3 linked regions of the Homo sapiens genome follow. The protein of the gene in region 1 purifies or fractionates together with the protein of each later gene. This does not show direct contact. Each region holds a gene or a part of one and is shown in the gene's direction. Other genes may lie near its edges.

The links.
Region 2: the proteins of STRADB (region 1) and NBEA purify together in Homo sapiens (affinity purification with mass spectrometry; 2 studies listed by BioGRID and IntAct, with this or other methods). This does not show direct contact.
Region 3: the proteins of STRADB (region 1) and CCT6B purify together in Homo sapiens (affinity purification with mass spectrometry; 3 studies listed by BioGRID and IntAct, with this or other methods). This does not show direct contact.

Annotation. Positions count from the first base shown.
Region 1 is NC_000002.12:201,445,610-201,455,511, forward strand, and holds the start of STRADB (STE20-related kinase adapter protein beta), read left to right. Parts: upstream 1-6,130; 5' UTR 6,131-6,329; intron 6,330-9,136; 5' UTR 9,137-9,231; coding exon 9,232-9,243; intron 9,244-9,902. UniProt on the Homo sapiens protein: Pseudokinase which, in complex with CAB39/MO25 (CAB39/MO25alpha or CAB39L/MO25beta), binds to and activates STK11/LKB1.
Region 2 is NC_000013.11:34,936,761-34,945,973, forward strand, and holds the start of NBEA (neurobeachin), read left to right. Parts: upstream 1-5,509; 5' UTR 5,510-6,060; coding exon 6,061-6,354; intron 6,355-9,213. UniProt on the Homo sapiens protein: Binds to type II regulatory subunits of protein kinase A and anchors/targets them to the membrane. May anchor the kinase to cytoskeletal and/or organelle-associated proteins.
Region 3 is NC_000017.11:34,926,417-34,931,520, reverse strand, and holds the end of CCT6B (T-complex protein 1 subunit zeta-2), read left to right. Parts: intron 1-469; coding exon 470-572; intron 573-2,486; coding exon 2,487-2,559; intron 2,560-3,403; coding exon 3,404-3,473; 3' UTR 3,474-3,660; downstream 3,661-5,104. UniProt on the Homo sapiens protein: Component of the chaperonin-containing T-complex (TRiC), a molecular chaperone complex that assists the folding of proteins upon ATP hydrolysis.

The DNA of each region.
Region 1 (9,902 bases):
TGGACTCCCTAAGGAGGAAAAGATTTGGATAGGTGAGGAGACTATCTGGTAGGAGAAAATAATAATGATAATATCCAACAGCAAGTAGCAGACAGAGCCAGGTTGGCAGCATATACAGACCAATTTGAGTGGGAAGAATTATGGGGAAGGTATTTGGAGATTTAAATTTGACTAGTTCAGATTAAGAAGTCTGAACTTGATCCTGCAGGGAACACATTTCTAAATAGAAGTGACATTTGAGAGAAATAAATGTAAATGCAGGATGCAGGATAAATTTTGGAATGGAGAGATTAGAGACAAAAATAATTAGAAAATTTTATCACATTTACGCATGGATTATTTTAATAAAGGTATAAACTAGGTGAATGGAAATTTTAAGAAGGATTTACGGGTTTGTGAGATAGTGAAAACAGGACCTGTTAACTGATGAGTTGGGGATAGATGAACTTTTTCCTCTCCTAAAAGATAACTACATCTGGCATATGCCTCAATTACTCAGGCTTGAAACCTTACAACTTCTCTTGCCCCTCACTCCCCGAGAATTCTCTTCCCCAGACATTTCCCCTCCCTGCAAACTAGCTTCTCCATCTTCCCCAACCACACAACATATTCCAGCCAAAAGAAAGAACTGCATTTACTAGCTTCCTAGACACACCAGGAAATTCTCAGTCCTGTAACTCTGTCCATGCTATTTCTTCTAATTTTAATGTCCTCTCCCCATTCTACATATCCAAATTCTAGCCATGCTTCCCACACCAGCTCAATGCCACTTTTCCCAACAGGCCTTCCCAGAAACCCCAACTTGAAGGAGGTATTGCCTCCGAACACTTTCTGCTCTTCTCTAAAACAGTTTTTAAAACCTTAGAGCTGTTCCTTATCTCCTCTGATAAACTGCATGCCTCTTACAGCAAACATACTTATTTTTGTATTACTCTGCCCTCTTTTCACAAATAAAGAGCTAGATAAATATCATATAGCAACAGCACAGTGTAAAGCCAAGAACACAGACTCTAAAGACAGACTGAGTTTGAATCTTAACTCTGCTGCCTGTTAGCTATGTGATCTTGGACAAGCTACTTAATCTCTCTGTGCTTCAGTATGTTTACGTTTAAAATGAATAGTAGGTATTTCAAAAGGTTGTCAAAGAATTTGGCTTAAATCTGTGTCAGCACCATAAAAGTGTCTATTAAATACATAAGATCACTTTTTAGAGTGGAAAAATCTGAATATTCTGATAGTTGTATAAAGCTTTATGATCTATACAAGGAAAAGCAAAATGTCAAAATAAAGACAGCCTCTGGGTACAAACAGCTATATACAAATTCTTTCCCTATCTTCTTATGTACACCCTAAGGGTTAGCTGTGCCCTTTATAATGTTATATTAACAGTGGCTCTGTTTTAGTTAGACATTTCAATATTCTGGGAAAACTGTTAGTTCAGCATCCTGTGGCACTAGCTACCTTGGTTACCTTGTCTCCGGTCTTATTACCTTTCATTTATCCTTTACAAGTCTTAGTCTTTCTAAAATGCAAATCTAATGCTTTTCCACTGCTACAAACCACCTCCATCCCATCTTCCTTAGGATAAAGTTTAAGCCCCTTGGCATCTCATGTAAAATCTTCCTAATCCAGCCCCAGCCTAGTCTCCAGTTTCATTTCTCTCAACATTTATCTCTTCACCAAAAAACCTCAATCACCTAACCACAGCTTAAAGGCTTTTTGTATGTCAACTTCTATCACCTAACCACAGCTTAAAGCCTTTTTGTATGTCATTCCTTTTGCCTAGAACACCTATTTGTTAGTTTGCTAGGGGTTCCATAAAAAACTACCACAGACTGGGTGGCTTCAACAACAGAAATTTATTTTTTCACAATACTGGAGTCTGGAAGTCCAAAATCAAGGTGTTGGCAGGTTGGTTTCTCCTGAGGCCTCTCTCCTTGGTCTTCTTGATGAATCCTCACATGGTCTTTCCTTTGTGTGTGCAACTCCTGTGTCTCTTTTTGTGCTCAAATTTCCTTCTTATAAGGAAAACTGTCAGACTGGATTAGAACCCACCCTAACGGCTTCATCTGAACTTAATCACCCCAAAGCCCTGTCTCCAAATACAGTCACATTCTGAGGTTACGGCTGTTAGGGCTTCAATATAATTTTGGGAGGACACAATTCAGCCCATAACAACCCCTTCCCCTTTTCTCTGCCCAGGCTAATTCCCATTTGTTTTCCCAAGACTGGTCCAAGCCTTCCCACTCCAGAGTAACTTCAGTGTTCTTTCTCTGTGCTCCCAAAGTACCTCGGCAAGCTGTGATCCCATTGCTCAACACACTATGTTAATTGTCTCTTTCCTTCTTCAAACTACATTCCTTAAGAGCAAAGACTAAATTCCTAGCATTGGCACAGTGTGTGGCACACAGAAGGTGTTTAATAAAGATTTGATCACTGAAGGAAAATGAAAGAAAGAACAGGAACCTTGAAGTACGACAAGCATGGGTTCAAATCCTGATTCCACAGTTTACTTATCTGTGACTCTGAGCAAGTCATTACATGCTGAACTTCCATTTTAAATAAGGTAGTTGTAAAGACAAATGACTAACTCATAATGAAAGCACCCAGCTGTGGGGCTGGTACACAGTAGGTTCTCAATAAATGTTAGATTACAGATTTTGATCTTGTCTTCTCTGACACTCAGTACTACCATGTAGTAGCTACATGACCTTTGGTATATTTACTATCTTCTCTTTGCTTTAGTTGCCTATCTATAAAAACACCTCAGTGCTATTGTGAGGATAAGTTAATATAGGTAAAACATTATCTAACACATAGTATTACATAAATGTTTCCTATTATTATAAGAACACTGCAGATCTGAACAGATAATGACTCAACTATGAATAATTTAGTTCTTTTAATTACTAAGTCATTTAAATGTGACTATTACCTTTTTGCCTCCTATTTCTTACCAACTAAACAGGATGGTAACTAAAGAGGTTCAAAACTGGTACAGATAATATAATGAGAGCTCACAATAAACATGAAATAAGACATTATCTGTCTCATTCCTTATACTGGTATTTAACATATTTGGGGCACTAAAGCAAAGAAAGTTTCAGTGGAGAATAACACTTCTCTGCTCGTATTTTAATTTTTTTTAGAGATGGCGTCTCACTCTGTCACTCAAGCTGGAGTGCAGTGGTGCCATCATCGCTCAAGGGATCCTTTGATCTCAGCTGGCACTACAGGCACAAACAACCACACCCAGCTATTTTTTATTTTTGGTAGACATGGGGTTTTGCTATGTTGAACAGGCTGGTCTCAAGTCATCCTCCTGCCTCGGGCTCTCAAAGTGCTGAGATTACAGGTGTGAGTCACCACACCCAGCAGGGTCATATTTTTATTTGCAGACTCACAAAACCTGTAAACTGAAAAGAACCTTTTGATAAAAGTCCAGTCTTATAATTTCTTACATAAGTGAGATGGATTTGGAATGGGCTTTTCGGGTCTTACTGAGCAGTTCAGTAAGAAATGGGAATTGTAGGCAGAGAGAATCAGTTTGTTCAAAAGTACTAAAGCAGGGGTTCAGGACTTATTCCAGATGTCCAAGGTGTGTGTTGGAACCAGTCTTAGACAATAACACTAGACAATCCTCTTTAACCACTCAACCTTTAAAGTCTATAATTTCTGAAGTACGTATTAGTTACCTGATCTGTGACTTGGAAGCAAGGCAGATCTAGATTTAAATCTCCCCTTGTTACATAAGCAAGTCTTTGAGCCTCAGATTAGTGTGATAGGTTTGTTAAAGTGATTAAGTGAGCTAAAGTATGAAGAGCTCCCACCTGGGGTGCCTGGCAGATTGCAAATACTAAAATGTTGGTTCTTTTTTTTTTTTTTTTTTTTTGAGACTGAGTTTCACTCTTGTTGCCCAGACTGGAGTGCAATGGCTCGATCTTGGCTCACCGCAACCTCCGCCTCCTGGGTTCAAGCGATTCTCCTGCCTCAGCCTCCTCAGTAGCTGGGACTGCAGGCATGTGCCACCATGCCTGGCTAATTTTTTTTTTTTTTTGAGATGGAGTCTCGCTGTTGCCCAGGCTGGAGTGCAGGGGTGCAATCTTGGCTCACTGCAACCTCTGCCTCCGGGTTCAAGCAATTCTTCTGCCTTAGCCTCCGAGTAGCTGGGACTACAGGCGCGTGCCACCACGCCCGGCTAATTTCTGTATTTTTAGTAGAGACGGGGTTTCACCATATTGGCCAGGCTGGTGTATTTCCTTTCAGTAGAGACGGGTTTCTCCATGTTGGTCAGGCTGTTCTTGAACTCTCCACCTCAGGAGATCTGTCCTCCTTGGCCTCCCAAAGTGCTGGGATTACAGGAGTGAGCCACAGCGCCCGGCCAAATGTTGGTTCTTTCTAACAAACCTCTTCCATCATATGAATAAGTGTGTAAGATAACAAAACACTGTCTTTCACATGGTATGTGCTTGCTAAATGTCTGAGACTTGCTGGACATTACTTAATTTTAAAAATAGAAAACTGGAGCTGGGTGTGGCGGCTCACGTCTGTAATCCCAGCACTTTGGGAGGCCAAAGCGGGTGGATCATGAGGTCAAGAGATCGAGACCATCCTGGCCAACATGGTGAAACCCCATCTCTACTAAAAACACAAAAATTAGCTGGGCGTGGTGGTGCGCGCCTGTAGTCCCAGCTACTCTGCAGGCTGAGGCAGGAGAATCGCTTGAATCCGGGAGGCGGAGGTTGCAGTGAGCCGAGATCACCCCACTGCACTCCAGCCTGGCGACAGAGCGAGACTCTGTCTTAAAAAAAAAAAAGAAAAGAAAGTTGGAATAACTGCTAGGATGATAAAATGTCTTCATCCCTGACCTTTCTCACCTCCAAATGTCCTTCACAATTTGTTTTTAAGTGTCATGTCACCACCATTAACCTGCTATTTGGAGACTACTGTACCTCAGACTTCCAAGTCAACAGCAAAGATCTAAAGGTCGGGAAGATTTACGGAGACCAAGAACTGAAAGTGTTCCTTTTGTTCCTATGGTCCATTCCATCAACTTGATGAATATCCTGTGAAGTTACCTTTTTTTTTTTTTTTTCTGACGTAGAAACAGCAGGTCTAAGCAAAAGGTGCATGAGCAAGAGCAAGTAACATCCCTATTATTATGACGCAGATTTTTTTTTAAGTTGAAATTCAATTTTTGGGCTGCTACTAAAAAGGACATGTGCGAATATCTATTATTTACGCTTCAAACTAAAGTCAGCCGTTTTTCTTTTTCAAGATATGTGGCATCTGGCTCAAAATCAATTGCAAGAAAAGCCCAACTCTATTTGACCCAGAAAGAGCTCTTTCCAATACCCTCTCCTCCCACTTACATCACAGATGGCGACTGAAGCTTAAGGTTTAATGCCCGACCCTAAAGCCACTCATCCTAAAAGACAGGGCTCCAGATGGATGCTGTATGGCAGAGGATAAGGCGCTATGAGAAGCTGCCAAGCCTCAGATGTGCAGCTGGGCTGAATACCGACGCCAGCGCCTAGCGCCCATTACTTTGCACCCACACTTAGGAAACAACCCACGCCTCACCGCGGGACCCGGACCCAGCCCTCCAGCACCCAGCCTCCGGCTCCGACGTCCGCGCGTGACCTCCGGGTACCGGAGGACCTTGGGACGAGGAGGTCCCTCCGCTTTCCGGGGAAGTTGTCAAGGGCAAGTTCGGGTTCTGCGCGGACAGCTTACTCACTGGAGTGGTTCGGCATCCTCTGTCGTCCGCCCGCGCTTCCTCAGGAAGCCCCTAATGCAGCGGCAGCCTGAAAGCAGCAGCCGAAGCTGCTGCCGCTGCTCCCACTGCCAGCAACCGCCCGGGCGTGGCAGGGACAGGCGGGCGACTTCACAACATCATCACTCGGCGACCTCGGTTCTGCGGCGACACCGGGTCAATGGCAGCCCCCACACAATTGGGGAAGCCAAAGGAGAGCCACTCTCCCAGCGGCCTCCACGGCCCCAGCGCAAGACCTGCTGGGAATTGTAGTTTCCTGCCCGCCCCGCCTCAAGCTCGAAGGCCCCGCCTTCTCGCTGCCCAGCCCCGGGGAGGGAGGCGGGGCCGCGACCCCGGCGCGGGTGGGGCGAATGCGTTCCCAGCGGGTAGCCTGGGACTGGTGCAGAGTTCCAAGCCCACGGCCCCGGTCGCGGCCTCGCCGCCCTCCCGCGCCCCGCGCCGGGAGCGGGCCTAGAGCGCTCGCCTCGCCCCTCCGCGAGCAGGGCTCTGGCGCCCGCCCCTGTCCGCACCGCTGGCAGCCTGAAGAGAGTCGCTGGCCGTGGTCGCCGCTAGGGTAAAGACGGGAGGCAGGCCCGGGAAGGGAAGGTGTCGGGGCCGGTGGGGGACGTGTGAGGGAGTGAGCCTTGGTCCGCGCACGCCCGGGAAGCCAGAGGCCAGAACGCGCTAGCCCACCTCCAGCCCGAGCACCGGCGGCTGGCGGGAGCCGTGGCAAGAATGCGGCCCGAGGTGGCGAGCAGCCACTGCGCCAGTGCAGCTCGGGCTCAGCGGGGCCCGGGCCGCGGGTTCGCAGCCCGCCCAGTGGTGCCTGCCGGGTTGGCCGTGCCGGCCGTGCCAGGTGCGCGGGGCCCAGGCCGCCCGGGCGCCCTCTCCCCGCACCCCTCACCTTTGGCCGCGCTCTCGGGCTTGGGGAGTTGCCATATCGAAGACACCCTCAGACCCCAGCTCTATCTGCCGCCTTCTGCAAGTTCGCTGCAAAGTCCCCCATAGCAGGACTAGGAAGGAACCTTTTACAAAATTAAATACTCGAGTGTCGTTTTGTCTTCGGTTTTTCAATTCAACGCTGTGTTTTTCCCTGCTGGGTCTTTGTCAAGTACCTTTTCCCCAAAACTTGATACGGATGTGTAACACGGCGCCTGCTTAGCACGGTGCCTGGCACCCAGTAGGCGCTCAGTAAAGATTTGTTGAACGCATGAGTCACTAAGCTTGGAAAATTCTCCTGAACTGTGCGTCGCTATGATCTTTGTTAAGATTTTATGGGTTCCCAAGATCACTTTGAAAATTACAGTAATTTTAAAGCTCAACAAAGAGTTACATCGGGTCATTTTTGCATTCCCTGTAACAGTGGCCTCTGTTGAATGCCTAAATTAACTCAAAACCCGTGTTCTAGAAGATGCGCCCTTTGGTTTCTACAGAAAGTGTTAATCTTTCAGATCAAAGTCTTCACATGAACCATTCTATTATGGAACAAACTGAAATTACTTATAAAGCTTTATCGTAATTAGCGTTTTGGATACAAGTGTAAGGGACTGCACTGATGTACTTGTGAATACGAAATATAAGTCTCTTAAATATGACTTTTTTTTAAGAAAGGGTTTATATTCATATCTCGTGAAAGAGCATGCCGGAGAAAATTATAATAACAGCAAATCCCCCACCCCCACCCCTTTGCTGGGTGCAGCTGCTGCCTTGACCTCAAAATGTCTTGTAAAATTATCTCTTAATAGTCTGGTGTATCTAAGGCAAAAATCTCTGAGATTAAACCACCCCATAGGGACAACCCTTTTATTACTAACAATTCTTACCAGATTGTGTCTGTTTCTTCTGAGCTTTTCTGAAAAAGAGAAAAAAATAGACAACGTAATGGAGTTTCACATTATTAAGACAAAATCAGTAACAACTTGCTGACATTGAGTGAAAAAAGCAGGATACAAAATCATGATAACCAGAAAATTTGGTTAATCATGACATCCATAACCCTTCTGCTTGTGGGAAGGTCAGCTACAAGTGGCCAGGGTCTTGTCTGCCCTGATTACCAGCGGGTGTCCACAGTGCCTGACCCATGGTAACCACTCATTAAACACTTGTGTAATGATTACTTGGCTGTTAACAGATTAACAGTGTATTGACTATGATGTGTAGTTTCTTCATTTACTTGGATATCTCCTTAGAATAGATCACTCCGGGGAATTTTACTGGGTCAAAAAGTATGAATATTTTCATGGTTATTGAAACATTTGACAACCTGCTTTCCAAATAAACCTTATAGTTTTGTACTGCCATCAGTACATTTGAGTGTACCTTTCAAAGCATAGTTCAAGCTGATACAGTGTTTGCTAATTAGGGGCACTTTGAGATGTAACTCATTTGATTTCATTCACCCTGGAAGGTTGGCAGGGCAGGCATTGCTTTCCTCCTTTTGCAGCACAGCAAACTCCAGTGCTTTAAATTGACGGTAATGAATGGTAGGTGGCTAAATGATCACAGCCTTTCAGGTCCGTCTTCCTCCCAATCTCTACCTTTGGTTCATAGTGAACATCCTGAATAAATTCACCTCTTTCTTTAGCAATAAAATTGGATATTGCTTTATGGTTTTTATGGTTTACAAAATCTTCCCTTTCTCATCCTGCTCACATATTTGTAGATGGGTTCATCAAATTTGGGGAGTTGAAATAATGAAGCACAATTTAGATGAAAGAGATGATGTTGGTTAGATGTAAAGGGATGCTCTGAACCCACAAACTTACAAGATTGCCACCCTTTCTATTAGTAAAGGTCTGGAAACCGTGGATGGTGCTTTTGTATCTCCTTGAATTAATTTCCTAGTCTGTTATTCTGATTCTTTCCCATATTTGCTGGTCAGGGACCCCAAATGATTTAATACGTAATTAATCCAATAAGAAAGGGCTTTGGAAAGTCTCAAAGTTTAGTTGTAATATGTGGAACCATTGAAAATTCTTGGGGTTTATTGTAAGTGACACTGTTTATATCAAAAGTGGGCCAAAAATTGGTTTTCTACATTGCTTTCAAATTTGCTCAGCGTTCTTTAAAAAACAAACAAAAAACAGTATAGAAAAGATAGGGAAGGAGAAATGCAAACATATTGAGGCTTTGGAAATATTCAGGACTTCTTTTTGTTTTCACTCTGCTTCTTGGTTGTGATGTCAGATCACAAATAATGTTCAGTAAAAAATAAATGCTCTTTAAAGATACTTTTCAGGAATGTCTCCTTGTGTCAAGGAGTAGCTGCCTAAATATTGGGTATCAGGGAATAGCTGCCTAAATATTGGATGGGTTTAAGGCAACTGGTTCTTTAAGGAACTTTTATGTGAATCTAAATTATTTTGCTTTTGTTTTTTATAGTAGGATATATCTGCATCTTGAAAGGAAGATAAAACAAAAGCCTTCTTTGGAATAGATGGATTTTTGTCACTTTCTGTGTGAACTAAAGTGATTCAATGTCTCTTTTGGTAAGTTTTTGTAAATATAGATCTGATTTTGTTCTGTCAGAGTAGTTGGATGTTAATGCCAAGCCATAATAAAAGGCATATTCTGATGGGATATTCTTATGCTCTGAGATATTGTTTTGACCTGATTGACTTCTGGACTTGAGAAATGAATTACATTCTCATTGAGTTTTTCTTTCTTTCATAAAGAACTTCTCGTATACTTCAATATGTTCATTATTCTAATCTTTTGTCCCATATCTACTTTTTCTCATAGGTGTTATACTTTGATATGCCACCCACACCAGTTAGCTATGCCTTATCTTTTAAATCTTTCAGAAATTCCTTTTACAAATTTCCATCTGACCAAAAGCAAGCCAAACAGTATTAAAAATAACCCCTTTGACTTAACCGAAATAAAATCATTTGGATCAATGTATATATGAGGTATAGCTGCCAACTGGTTTTCTATTTATATTTAGATCCGTGGTATCTACTTTAGATTAAGTAGCTTGAGGACTTTCATCCTGTTTTATACATAATAATAATATTTGAATAGGGAATACTTATATTAAAATGTGGTTTTTAAAAAAGTAATGAGTAGACCACGTGTAGTGGCTCACACCTGTAATCCCAGCATTTTTAGGGGCCAAGGCTAGAGAATCAGTTGAACCCAGGAGTTC
Region 2 (9,213 bases), on another chromosome or scaffold:
TGTGGAAACAAGGAGACCAGGTATGAAGTGACTAGAATCTAAATCAGGATGACTGCAGTGAGAATGAAAAAAATGAGATGAATGCTAGACCCACTCCCACGAAGAATGGGCAGAGGTATGACAATTTAATGGTGAATAAGTATGTGTGCATGGTGCATTTGTATGCATATTTATGTGATGTTTACGGGTACATGTTTGCATTAGGCTGCTTGTATGATATCTAGTTCATTTATGATTCCAGAATACTTATTATTTCAGTACCATTTGACATTTTAAAATTACTTGCTGATAATTTTCCATGTCTCAACACAATCTTTTCCTAAATGAAAGATTCAGAATCACTCATTTCAATTAGTTTAATTTTTGGCATACAAATATGTATTGGTTGGTAAGCTTCAACATTTTAACCATTCCCAAATTGGGTCAACTTAGGATACAAATATAGAATTTCTATTTTGTGTTTGTGTTCCCTCTTTAAGAGGAAAATTAGTGGAGCAAAAAAGGTAAAAGAAGTAGTGGTAGTTGGAAGAAACTGACATTTAAGTTTGATGAAGAAATTCTAAATAGACACCTAGAGAGGCTAAATGAATTCAAGTCCCCAAGGCAGGACAAATTGCATCCACTGATCCTAAAACAATCTGAAAACTAGATCACTGAACAACTCTCAATGGTCTTTGAGGAGTCATAGAGAACTAGGAGTGCCAGAGGATTGAAGTGCTAAAGGCAGGGTGAGGTTAATTCTCGAAAATCCATAGCAAGTAGCTTAATATCTCCAAAGCAAGTAATAATACTTCACATCAATATATTTTCATTTAATTTTGCTCAGATACAGAAACAGAGAGTATCCAGACTGCAGCTAGACAGTTGTCAAGGTCCCTTACGGTATCCTTTGGTAAAGCCAGAGGAATATGTGTGCTAGTTATCAGCACACTATGGTAGCTAATTTATTATTGAAGGAGTATGCTAAACAGGTGCTTATAAACAACTTAAATCAGTTTTCAAACTTTTTGACTACAATTTGCAGTAAGAAATACATATTACATCATTACCTAGTAAACATACATATGTATTTTTATGTACGTGTGTGTAATTAAAGCAGATCTTATAAAATGGTACTTACCCTTACAAAATAGATTTTGAAATTTCTCATTATGTGTGTTTCTATTCATTTCATTTAAAAAAAACCCTGTTGGTTGCAACCCACTAAATCAATTTCATGACTCCCTATTAGGATGGGACCCACAGTTTGAAAAACGTGAATTGATTCAAGCAGAGTGATACTGGTGACTGCTGAGCTGTTTTCATCCTGTTCAATCAACATTTGAATGGAGGTATAGAAGGAATGCTCCCAAATTTACACATAGACTAATAAGACAATAAATTATTTGCATGATATAATCAGGATTAAGAAATTCCTAGCAGATGAAATTTAATGGATAATTAAATAGAAAATTTGTATTAAATAATCTTTTTTTTTTGTTTTGAAACAGAGTCTTGGTTTCTTGCCCAGGCTAGAGTGCAGTGGCATGATCTCTGCTCACTGCAACTTCTGCTTCCCGGGTTCAACTGATCCTCCTGCCTCAGCCTCCTGAGTAGCTGGAATTACAGGTGGCCACCACCACACCTGGCTAGTTTTTGTATTTTTAGTAGAGATGGGGTTTCACCGTGTTTTCCAGGCTGATCTTCAACACCTGACCTCAAGTGACCCACCTGCCTTGGCCTCCCGAAGTGTTGGGATTACAAGCATGGACCACCATGCCTGGCCTTAAAATAAAATTTAAATTTAAATTGATATGTTCAATTTTGTACTTATATCTCAAAATCTACATGTAAAGCTACAAATTGTAGATATGCTGCTGCTAAAAAAACAGTAATAACAAAAGAAAACGCCTTAGTTTTTCAGGTCGATAATTATTTCATGCAGAAGCTATTGTGATTAATAAAGTAAAACTCTTTATTAATCCTAATTAATCCTGATGGTCTAATCTGTCCATCAAGATGGACCTTTACGAAGATTACCCATGTAAGGATGGACTGGAGAAGAGTGAGTGTGGAAAAGAGGAGACCAGGTATGAAGTGACTGGGATCTGAATCAGGGTGGCTGCAGTGAGGATGAAAAAAGTGGGATGAATGCGAGACCTATTACCAGGAAGAATGGGCAGATCTGTAACTAATTTAATGGTGATAATAATTTCAATATGAGAGGAGAATGGAACCAAAATTATTTGAGAACCTACTACGTGCCAAATGTGAATCATTACTACATTACACGAATCATTAGTGTCATGTTAAGAAAAAAATCCAAAACCAAAACAAACCAAACAGATCTAATTTGATTTGGGGCAACATTAACAGGAGCTATATTGCTAAAGGTTGAGGGTGAGGTAAGAATTTCCCTCTGTTTTATACAGGTCTAAACCCACATTGAATTTGGAGTATTCTGTTCAGATAAAGTTTAGAGGAAAGCAAGAAATGTGTTCTTTAAAGAACAGGTGAAGGAAACGGGAATAGTGTGGAGAACGGCTGTTTCCATCCATTCATTTTTGAACATATTTATTCAATGTAAATTATGTCAGGCAAGGTAGGTGCAAAAAAAAAAAAAACCCAAAAATAATGACACAAAATAACTGTGGGTATTTTCCGGCAGCCAATGAAGGGAAACATTATTGATTGCCACTTACTACTACATTAAGTACGTTAAATGTATTAGCTCCTTTAATCCTATAAAGTAGTATTATCATCCTTACTTTGGGTTGAGTAAACTGAAGCTTTGAAGCTAAAGTCATTTTCCCAACATCACACATATAAGTGGTGGTGGAACTAGAATCTAAATCCAGCTTCCATTGAATCTGGGGCATGACTTCTCAACCTCTCTGCAATATTGCTTCCTGAAACTCAGATTCACAGGTTTCTTATCTTTGAATGATTGTCCTTAGGAAGTATGGGTATGCAAAAATGCATACAAAATTAATATTCACCACATAAAATATATTTTTTAATCTGGAGATTTAAAAATATACATATTGGGTATCTTCTATTATTATGTAGCTTTTCTTTCAAAATATTGTTAATGTAAATGTAAAGTTATTTGCACATTTTCCGGGAAAAGGTTTTGTAGGCCAAAAAGAAATAGACCTGTTGACTTTTCTGAACTTTATGCTTTTGGGATGGTATGGAAGACATATAACTGTGCAATTATGCAGACTTGTATGTGGTTATAATTGGTATTACATGTGTTTATAGGTCATGCAACACACATGCCTGTATACTAAGGACACAAAGACACATTGACTATATGCTAGCTGCTCAGCTGAAATTATTTTATGGAATTCTTACTTCCCTATGAAACACATATTATCATTCCTACTTAAGGAACCAGGAGACTGAAACTCAAATAGCTTGAGTAGACTGCAAAGGTAGTAAGTTGTAACTATGACTCAAAGAATCATGCACTTTCCACAGTATCATAGCGCCTGCGAGGAGCTGATTGTCTACTGGAGAAAGATTTTTAATTGGTAAGCTCTTTTAAATATCTCTGAAATTGAATTAAGTAGGCAAAAGAAGTGGAGTTTTCCTACTTAGAAATGGTGATATTATCTTTACCCACTCACTATCTTCACTAAGAAAAATGAGCAGAAAAATACAACCAACTGCATATACATACTACTTAAGAAAAAATACAAGAAAAATCAAAATGGAAATGTTAAAAATGATGTTAAGCTATTCATTCAGAAAGGAAATAGAAAGTTCAGGTTGTCACTGTCTCTCAAAGTACTCATGCAAGAAGTCTAAAAATAGCAAAAGGTAGAACCTGCTGCCATATAGATATATGCACAGTGGGTAAAAAAACTTAGTGTGACAACCTTTCAGTCTAGATTTATGTATTTTACAAAGATATCATTTTAAATTTGCAAATGAAACAGTACTCTTAAAAGCAGATGATACTCACTTGGGACAGACAAAAATGTAGTAGAAGGATATAAACGTTACAGGATTTTTCAATTATATAGTATATCTCAAGTCATACTATTATGACTTGTATGTTTTGTAAATTTCCCGTACAGTTTCAAGCATTCTAGCATTTTATAATTCAATTGCCATTTAATTTAAATGGACATGCTAGTTACCACTGCTTTCAGAAGTGTTTGCTTAACTACTTTAACAATTCAATCACTTTGGTGCAAGTTTAAACAAACAGACATGCAACCAAGAATTCATCCTAAGTACTGGTTTTGAGGAACTTTTTTATAACCTGTGGTACTTAGAATTTTACCGTGTTCCCATATCCTGGGAGTTAACTTGACTGGCAGGTCCAATTAAATATGAATAATAACAAAACTGATTATGGTGGATTTGTATATTGACCTTTTTCATTTGAGAGGACAATTAAAACGATCTGAATATACCTCAAGATACCTAATATTTCTGGTGACTTGCAATAATCTTTATTGAAAAGGGAAGACCTCATGAAATATTAAAGAAAATTATATCATTCCTTTCAAGGAACAGTCATGCCTATTTAGTTTTAATTCAATACTAACAGCAAGATTACTGTGTACATTTTAATTTTTAAAAATTAAAGGTTTATTTTTTGTCTCGTATCTGTGCAGACATAGATATGTACTTTTCTCACAGACAAGGCTGGCAGTGAGAATCACCCATGTTTTTAGATAATTTCGAAAGTCCTCTGAATTGTACGTGCCTGTGAAAAAAGGAAACATTAATAATTGGCATCATACCTGAGGATTGTCAGGATTTTGAAAGTGTGGGATTTGTCGTTCCCACCAAACTACCCCACAGTGTCACACACTGCAGTCTTTTTAGGCTGGGAGGCGAGTTCAAGAGCTGTTTGTTGTTCCGAGCTTGATCCAGAGAGGATCACTGTTTGACAAGTTCTATTTTAAGTCGTGCCTGAGTGTGCAGGTGTCAGCCTCTTTCATGGCTGTAGAAAAAGCACCATTACACTCCGTCTGTATTCTTCCCCCGACAATGCAGGATCGCCCCCCCGCCCCCCCGCGCGTTTGTTTCTGCTTTGCCAGCCACTTTTTCTTTGGGAAATTCTAGGGAGGGCAGGCGGACAGGACTGCGAGGAAGGGCGAGGAGGGGCAGAAAGAGGTCGTCTGCCACTCCCCTACCTTACAAGGCACGTGGCACTGGCAGTAGCAGCAGCTGGATGCAACAACTGAGATGAGGAACCTCCTCCCAGCAAGAGGATATTGAGAGAAGGAGGAGGTGGCAGCGAAGGCAAGACATGCACACTGTGTCCTTCCCCAAAGGGAGAATCCGCCCTCAAGGGAAAAACCACAAGGAAGCCACTACCCGCCCCGCCTCTGCCAGCTTGCCCCAGTGTCTGGCAGCAGTCCCCATGCACCTGCTCACCTGTCTATCCGTTCGGGGTGGTTGGGGGAGGGACGAGGGGTGTCGGGGTGGGTGGGTGGGAAGAGAAGGAGGGCAGGGCAAAAGAGGGGGTGCACCGAGGGCTCCGCCCCCCCGGAGGCTGTGCGCAGGCGCAGTGGCTGCTACCGCAGGCAGGGGGCGGCAACATGGCGGAGTGAGCGGCGGCGTCGGGGCTTCACAACAACAGTGGTGGCCGTAGCAGCGGCGGCAGCAGCGTCAATAGCATCGGCCACAGCCTGAGCTTCAGCACCGGCCAGCGTCGTGGCCAGCTGCTCGCGTCCTCGGGCTTCTCGGAGCGGCTGCAGCATCTCCGCGGGGGGCGGGCCGGGCCGGACAGACCGGGAGAGGGAGAGAGCAGAGGCAGCGGCGGCGGCAGCGGCAGCGGCAGCGGCACACCTGCTGGGCGGGCACAGCCGCTTGCCCGGCAGCGGTTAGCGGTACCGCCACCGCCGAGAATAAGCCTGCGGATCCCCCGCCGCCTCCGCGGGGGAGAGCGCCGGAGCGGGCCGGGCTGAGGCGCAGGCGGGGAGCGGGCCCGGCGCCGCGGCGCTGGTGGATGCTGGGGCTCCGAGGCGACGGCCGGGGGGCGGGGGCCGAGGCAGGTATAACGGTACCGGCGGCGGCAGCGCCGCTGCTCTTCCCTTCTCCTCAGGAGGGGGGCCAATGGCTAGCGAGAAGCCGGGCCCGGGCCCGGGGCTCGAGCCTCAGCCCGTGGGGCTCATTGCCGTCGGGGCCGCTGGCGGAGGCGGCGGGGGCAGCGGTGGTGGCGGCACCGGGGGCAGCGGGATGGGGGAGCTAAGGGGGGCGTCCGGCTCCGGCTCGGTGATGCTCCCCGCGGGGATGATTAACCCTTCGGTGCCGATCCGCAACATCCGGATGAAATTCGCAGTGTTGATTGGACTCATACAGGTCGGAGAGGTCAGCAACAGGGACATCGTGGAGACGGTGCTCAACCTGGTAAGGAAAAGGCGTGCTCTCAATCTGCTTCCCCAGTCCCCACATACACCGTCCCCAGCGCCTTTCCCTCCCACCCTTCACCCCCAGGGTCACACGCGCCGCGCGTCCCTGGGAGCGCAGAGCGTTCAGCCGGTATTGCCCAGCGGGTGACCTGCCTGCGCGCTGCTAGAGCCACGCCACCTCCCTCCTCTCCTCTTTCTGGTCCTCTCCTGCCACCTGAGCGCAGTGCCCAACTTAACACCGCTTCTTCTCACTTTTTAGGACCGCGAGTAACCCAGTACCCGCGGTGAAGGTTTTGGGTCGACTTTAGAGTTTAGTTAGGAGGTGAGGAGGCCTCCTGTTCTCTGGGGTTCTTTTTCTCACACTTAATTGTCCTTGGTGTCGCTCTCCGAGGATGACAGCCTTGCCCCTGGAGCCTAAATTCCCCCGTGCTGCTGAAATGTGAGAAGCGCATTAGCTTCCAACTTGAGCAGCTGGGGTGTGATGTTTTCGAAGGAGACAGAAAATGATGCAGTTTTGCATCTGTCTTTAAATATTCCAAGGCCATGATGGAGAGTGTTGTGTCTGTATCCATCCCCCTCCATCTCAGAAGCAGCCGTCCCTTCTTTGTAATATTGCCCTGAATATACTGATCTCTTAGTCATTTTTTGTGCACACAAGGTGTGTGAGGACACCAAATCACACAGGTTGATTTCTGTGGTTACTTTCAGTAGTGTGGCATGTGGGTAAAGACTAAAGGAAAGGTTTTAAACGCAGCCCTAGGTTTTGGTTCCTTTCATGGTAAGAAAGAGTTACTGCAGAAGTGTGTATGACTTAATGTTTTGCGCTATCTACAGAGAGGCTCAGAAGCGTTTAAGATGTCAGGGAAAGAAATGGAAAGAAGGAGAGGAGAATCATACATTGAGGATAATTAACAGTAGTTCATATTTAGTGCTTTGTAAATGGAGGTTTTGTTTTGTTTTGTTTTGTTTTTAAATGCAGCCAAGCTTTTTAAACAGTTTTCTCTGCAATAGATCTAGTCTTTGACATACTGTAAGGTTGGGCTTTGGGAGGCAAGACATAAATCGAGAGCAATCAGTTGAGTATTGTATTTGGTGTGGGGTCACAGGAATATAACAATATGCTTACAGGGGTACTTTGTAACACCCATGCAGTCATTTTTCAGCTAAGCAATTATTTTTACTTACTCTATTGGAAAACTGAGAGAAAGCTGCAGCTACATCAGTGGTGTCCTGAGACATGCATTAGATAATGTCTACGGTTTATGAACCTCGTAAATGCACAGAAAAGTTGAAGCTGTTTTTTTCCTTTTGCTAGTGTGTCAGGTCAAAGGAGATTATCTGTCTTTGTTATATTCATTGCTGTTTAAAACAAAACACCTCTTTTTACTTTTTTGTACCTTTCAAATAAATCATCATGAAAAGTCAGTGTAAGTTTGAGGGAATGTCACTAAGTTGATATAACCAAGTTCTTTTCAGAACACTACTAGAAATACAGTTTTCTTGAGTTTTAATTTTAACTAGCTGCAAATAAGAGGTCAGTACTTGCCATTTCTTTTTAAAAGAAGATAAATCTCAAACTGTTAGTATGTTAGCAGGTAACTGTATTTCTGTAATTTAAAGGAACACATTTTTAGTTGCAGTTTTGATCTAACCAATATCATTTTTAAGTTAGATTATATTAGGCTATTTTAGTAAGTATTCCTATGCTTACTTAATACATTTTAACCTGGTAAGAGGCAGTAGAGCTTTCACAACCTGGAAACTGATTTGAATGTATAACCAGTTTGGACTCTGCAGCAGTAGCAATGTGTGCTGAATCAGTTCTTAACAGATGGGGTTTTTTAGATATACGGTAGACTAAGAAAGGAAGTGAAATGTTTCTCTTGAGATAAAAAAGAAATTTAACTCTTCAGAGCAATGAAAATCTGACATGAAGTTTCAGTATGCAGACGTTATTTTAGAGAACTTTACCATTAAGCTTAGAGTCACTAGAAATAAAGTAATACTGAGATAGTATATCCCCAAATCTACCTAAGATTTTGTAACTGCAATGATATTTGGAATTTAAAGAGTTAGGTTTAAAATTTCTTTGTATGTATTTAAAGAATGCAATAGATTTTTAAATAGAAACTTTTGGAGAAAAGAATAAATGACAAAAGGAGCTGTTTATTACTAAGTTGTTAATTATATTAATTGTGGAGTATAAATTAGTCATTTGAAGTGTAATTTTCTTGAACTGTAGATTTAGGGCTTTATTGTCCAATACACTCATGAAAATGTCATATGAAAATTTAAGTGGATTCTCAAAAATATGTGGAAGTCATGGGCATTTAAAAAACTGATTATCAAACTTAATTCTATTTATTTAGTAAGTAAACCAATAAAATTCATATAGGACACTCAGTGACTCGTTAGAGTTTGGAAACCTTTAATATTAAATCTAAAATGATTTTTTAAAATTTTCAGTTTTAGTTTAACACATTAAATAAAAATGTAAGGTGAAATAGTGAAATACCTATTACTGTGCCCTGAATGACAGAAAAGAAAGGAGAACTAATGAAACTTCAAAAAAAAGAGGAGTTTCTACCTTAAACAATACCTTTGTCTCAGTCGCCTTTGTCAGTATATTTTTCTTTCTTTTTCCTGTTTATTTTTTCTTCCTATGTAAGGATACTCATAAATACTTGGTTTTTAGGTGCTGTTTCTCACATGCCTTGGCCAAAGAATTAAAAGCTGGGCAGAGTGAAGTTTTAAGCATGCACTAAAGTGTAGGACTTCTTCAACAGAGCGGTGGCTGTAATTTTTCTGCTTTGTTTCCCAAAGGTCTAGAGACCTATTTTTACTACTAGGTGGATTG
Region 3 (5,104 bases), on another chromosome or scaffold:
AACCCTGTTACCACAGGTCGTGACTCTCCTCATGAAGATGAGGGGCACAAAGGTGCTGCAAATATTCTGGTTTCCTTAGCAAGTGCCTATGAAGAACTGGAGGGCATGTGGCTAGCGGCACTAGAGGAAACAAGAATATCATTCTACTTCCTTCCATACTAAAAACAAAACAAAACAAAACAAACCTTTTGCAAGGAGGGAAATTAATGTAGTAGGGTAAAAATGGGGGAACTCTGATGTCCTCAGAATTTAGTGTGACGTGCATAGGGGAAATGTTTAAGTAAATATAAAAACTACTAGATAGATGAAATAATAATTTGATTTAGATTAAAAGTGGAATTCTTCAAAAGGAGATGATTGCCATGTTATGGATGTGTTTTTACAAGAGTAAAGAGTATTTTTATATTTGATATATGTGAAGGTATTATGCATATATATATAATATATATTATTATTTTTATTCCTAAAGGTTCTTGCTCAGAATGCTGGTTATGACCCACAGGAAACATTAGTAAAAGTTCAGGCTGAGCATGTCGAGTCAAAACAACTTGTGGGCGTAGATTTGAATACAGGTAAGAAAGTGAAGGAAAATTAGCTGCTTAATAAAGAGGTTATTCTTTAGTTACCCAGATCTTATGGTAAAGGAGTAGAGGTTTGGGTAACTTTAATATTTAAATTTTGGATGCCTTTAGTTTATTTTTGAGCTTCTTAAAAAATGTTCATTCATTTAAGAAATAGTTATTGAGTGCTTGTTTTCCTCTTGGGCTTCACACAGAACAAAACAGACAAAAATATCTGCCCCTGGGAGCTTATGTTGTAGTGGGAGAAGGTAGGCAGTAAATAATAACTTTAATAAATAAACTCCTTCAGCATTTTAGAAAAAGTAATGAATTATATGGAAAAAAGAGTGCTATAATAATGATCATGAATGCTAGTACAGGAGGGTGGAGAGAGAATGACAGCTTAAAGGGTTGGTCAGGGTAGGCATCATCTAGATGTCTGTTGAAAAAAAGTGGAAGGAAGTGAGGAAATTAGCCATGTAGGCAACTGGGGTTAAGTGTTCTAGGGAAAGAGAACAGCCAGTGGAAAAGCCAGTGTCTGATGTTTCTGAGGAAGGAGGTGAGAGAGGTGACAGAAGGTCAGATCATGCAGGGGCATTTGGACCAGTCTCAGGACTTTGGCTTTTACTTTAGAGGAGCAGGGAGCAATTTTGAGCAGAGGTGTGACATGGCCTAATTAATTAATTTATGAGACAGTCTCGTTCTATCACCCATGCTGTGGAGTGCAGTGGCACGATCTTGGCTCACTGCAACCTCTGCCTCCCAGGTTCAAGCAATTCTCCTGCCTCAGCCTCCGGAGTAGCTGGGAATATAGGTGTCTGCTGCCACGCCCGGCTAATTTTTGTATTTTTAGTAGAGACAGGGTTTCACCATGTTGGCCAGGCATGTGGCCTAATTATGTTTAAGAGAATCACTCTGGCCACTCTCCACTTTGTAGAGAAGTCAACTGAACAAGTAGAAGGTTGGAGTTGCAATCAACTGTGGTGGAGAATACTGGCTGGAGCAGGTTGTGGGTGAGAGGACATCAGCATTCAGTTTTGGCAGAGTCAAAGTTGAAGCATCTGTAATCTTTTAATTAAAAAAGTTGGATATATGGGTCTGGAGTTCAAGGAAGAGGTCTGGGTTGGAGATTAAAACCTGAGAGTCAGGCCAGGCGCAGTGGCTCACGCCTGTAATCCCAGCACTCTGGGAGGCCAAGGTAGGTGAATCACTAAAGGTCAAGGGTTCAAGACCAGCCTGGCCAACATGGTGAAACCCCATCTCTACTAAAAATGCAAAAATTAGCCGGGGATGGTGGCAGGCCCCTATAATCCCAGCTACTTGGGAGGCTGAGTCAGGAGAATTGCTTGAACCCAGGAGGTGGAGGTTGCAGGGAGCCGAGATGGCACCACTGCACTCCAGCCTGAGTGACAGAGCAAGATCTCTGTCTCAAAAACAAAAACAAAAAACACCAAAAAAAAAAAAAAAAAGAAAGAAAACAAAAAACAAAAACACCCAAAAAACCTTGAGAGTCATCAGATGTGTATGGTTTAAATCTAAAAGTCTGGATGAGATCACCTAGGGATTAAGGGTAGAGAGAAAAGAGGCTGGGACTGAACTTTTGGGTACTCCAACGTTAAGAGGTCAGGGAGGAAGAGGAAGAAGCAGCAAAGTAATCAGAAAAGGAGCCACTAATGCAAAAGAAAGAAAACCAGAAGAGTGTGGTATCCTGGAAGATAACATAGAGTAGGCGGCAGAATGTGATCAACTGTGTTAAATACTGGTAGATGAGGTCTGAGAATCAACCATTGGATTTAACAATATGGAGGTCATTGATGACCTTGACAAAAGTAGTTTTGGTAATGTATTAAATATTTTTAGAAGATATCAATTAATATTAATAGCAAATACTAAGATTTTGGTATGAAAATTGTTTTTACTTTTCAGGTGAGCCAATGGTAGCAGCAGATGCAGGAGTTTGGGATAATTATTGTGTAAAAAAACAACTTCTTCACTCTTGGTAAGTTCATATGAACATAAAGTGAAAGACCTGTAGAGTTATAATTGATAATATTAAGATGAAATTTTTTCTATTATTTTTGTCCCTGTACAGTGGAAAAATTGTCAAGTGTATGAAAGGTGTGGTATTCAGTTATTAGAACTAGCTTCTGTCATTTTATAGTCCATAGTCCCTTTTATATTTTAGATCTAGCAGTGTTAAGTTCTAAGAAAAATTAACCTTACTATTTGAGGGGGAAAGAAAAGGGGAAATTTACTGAAATAATAGCACATGCATGATGGAGAAAATCAAATGATATTGTAAAAATAAGCTCAATTTTGCTGAAATATAAATCAGGAATGCACTTTATCAGCAAAGGAGTTTAAATTATAATACAAAGGGTGACATTTGGGCCAGTGCGGTGGCTCACACCCGTAATCCCAGCACTTTGGGAGGCCGAGGCGGGTGAATCACCTAAGGTCAGGAGTTCGAGACCAGCCTGGCAAACATGGTGAAACCCTGTCTCTACTAAAAATACAAAAATTAGCCAGGCGTGTTGGTGGGTGCCTGTTATCCCAGCTACTCGGGAGGCTGAGGCGGGAGAATTGCTTGAACCTGGGAGGCAGAAGTTGCAGTAAGCTGAGGTCTTGCCATTGCACTTCAGCCTGGGCAACAAGAGTGAAACTCCATCTTGGGAAAAAAAAAAAAGGTGACATTTGTATTTGTATTTATAATAGCCTTGTCTCATAAAACATCATACTAACATCATTAAAGAACAAAGTACCCTACATAGGTAAAGATTGCTGGGGAAAAAAGCTAAGAGTGGGTTAGTAGGCTTTACTCACCCTCTCATCTTTTTCCTTAGCACAGTGATTGCCACCAACATTCTCCTGGTTGATGAAATTATGCGAGCTGGGATGTCTTCTCTCAAATGATGATTGAATTCAAAATCAACCCTTCTAGAAGATGAAATTTAGTACACTTTACATCTGACTACTATTGTGTAGCCTGAGCCATTCTGAATTTCTACACAATAAATGCAGTTTATGTCTTTTGGGTCTTAATAGTCTCAAAAATATTTCATCAAGGTATAAAGAACACAATAAATACTTTTACAGTAAAGGAATAATATTTAAATATTTCCCCAAGAGTCCTAACTCCCCACTCTTTGTTATATGCTATTGCAGTTTTTATAGCATAGGATCTTTATGATACTTAGACCTTTTGACAAGTTTTAATTAACAAAATAGAGGTTTTAGTACACCCAAGTAAATTTCCAATTTATCAGAGGGTATAAATATAGTAGGACAGAATGTTTCATTTTCTCTCAAAATTCTTTCAGTGACTTTTTGCTGCCACTCTTTCCTCTTATAAATATGGCGTGTAGCTTTGGGTTGCATTGTTTATAATATCTGACTCAATTTATTTTGTATATCATTTATTATATTTTATCTGGCTGTTTTTGTATGTATGATCAACAATTTATGCCACTGTGCTAGCTCTGGTAGCTCTCTGTCTAGATGGTGAGATAGAACAGGTCTCATCTGGAAAGAGAATTATTGACACCAATGGTGGGAAATAATTATTTTTGGCTTATAATACAACTGTTCAGTATAGATATTATAGCAATATCTTTCTTGTTTGAAACTCTAGAATTAATCTATTATGCTTTTTATTTTTATTAGAGTTCTTGTGGTTAACTTCTTTCCGTGGATGGTAGTTGATAAGAGACTAAAATATGGCAGGTGCATTAATGGAACTTTGGCCTGTTTGTGCATATAGGAGAAGGTTCCTTTAACCCTATAATTTTATAGCCTGTTTTTTCCACTTAATATGCTGTCAGCATCTTTCTAAGGCAGTATCCAGACTTCTTCTTCTTCTTTTTTTTTTTTTTTTTTTTTTTGAGATGGAGTCTCACTCTTCACCCAGGCTGGAGTGCAGTCATGATCTCGGCTCATTGCAACCTTTGCCTCCCAGGCTCAAGTGACTCTCCTGCCTTATCCTCCTTAGTAGCTGAGATTACAGGTGCACACCACCACGCCTGACTAATTTTTGTATTTTTAGTTGAGAAGGGGTTTCACTATGTTGACTAGGCAGATCTCAATCTCCTGACTTTCGGTGATCTGCCTGCCTTGGCCTCCCAAAGTACTCAGGTTACAGGCATGAGCCAGCACACCTGGCCTAGTATTCAGACTTCTGAACCATCACTTATTTATGGTTACATAGCATTGCATTGTATGGTTATACCACAATTTATTTTACTAATTCTGTTTTCAATTTTTTTTTTGCTGTTATAAAGAAAGATCTCCTTTTTAAACTTGTCTTTATTCTATAGGATAGGCCTTTTAAAATGGGCTTACCATGCATATGGCCAGATCTTTTCTGTGTAACATTGTTTAAATTTTGAAATATTTAAAATATACCAAAAAGACAGAAAGTAATATAATAAACACATTTGTACCCTCCACCTAGCTTTAACAAATAGTAACATTTTGCCATATTTGTTTCAGATTTTCTTTTCTTTTCTTTTTCTTTTTTTTTTTTTTTTGAGGCAGAGTCTCCCTCC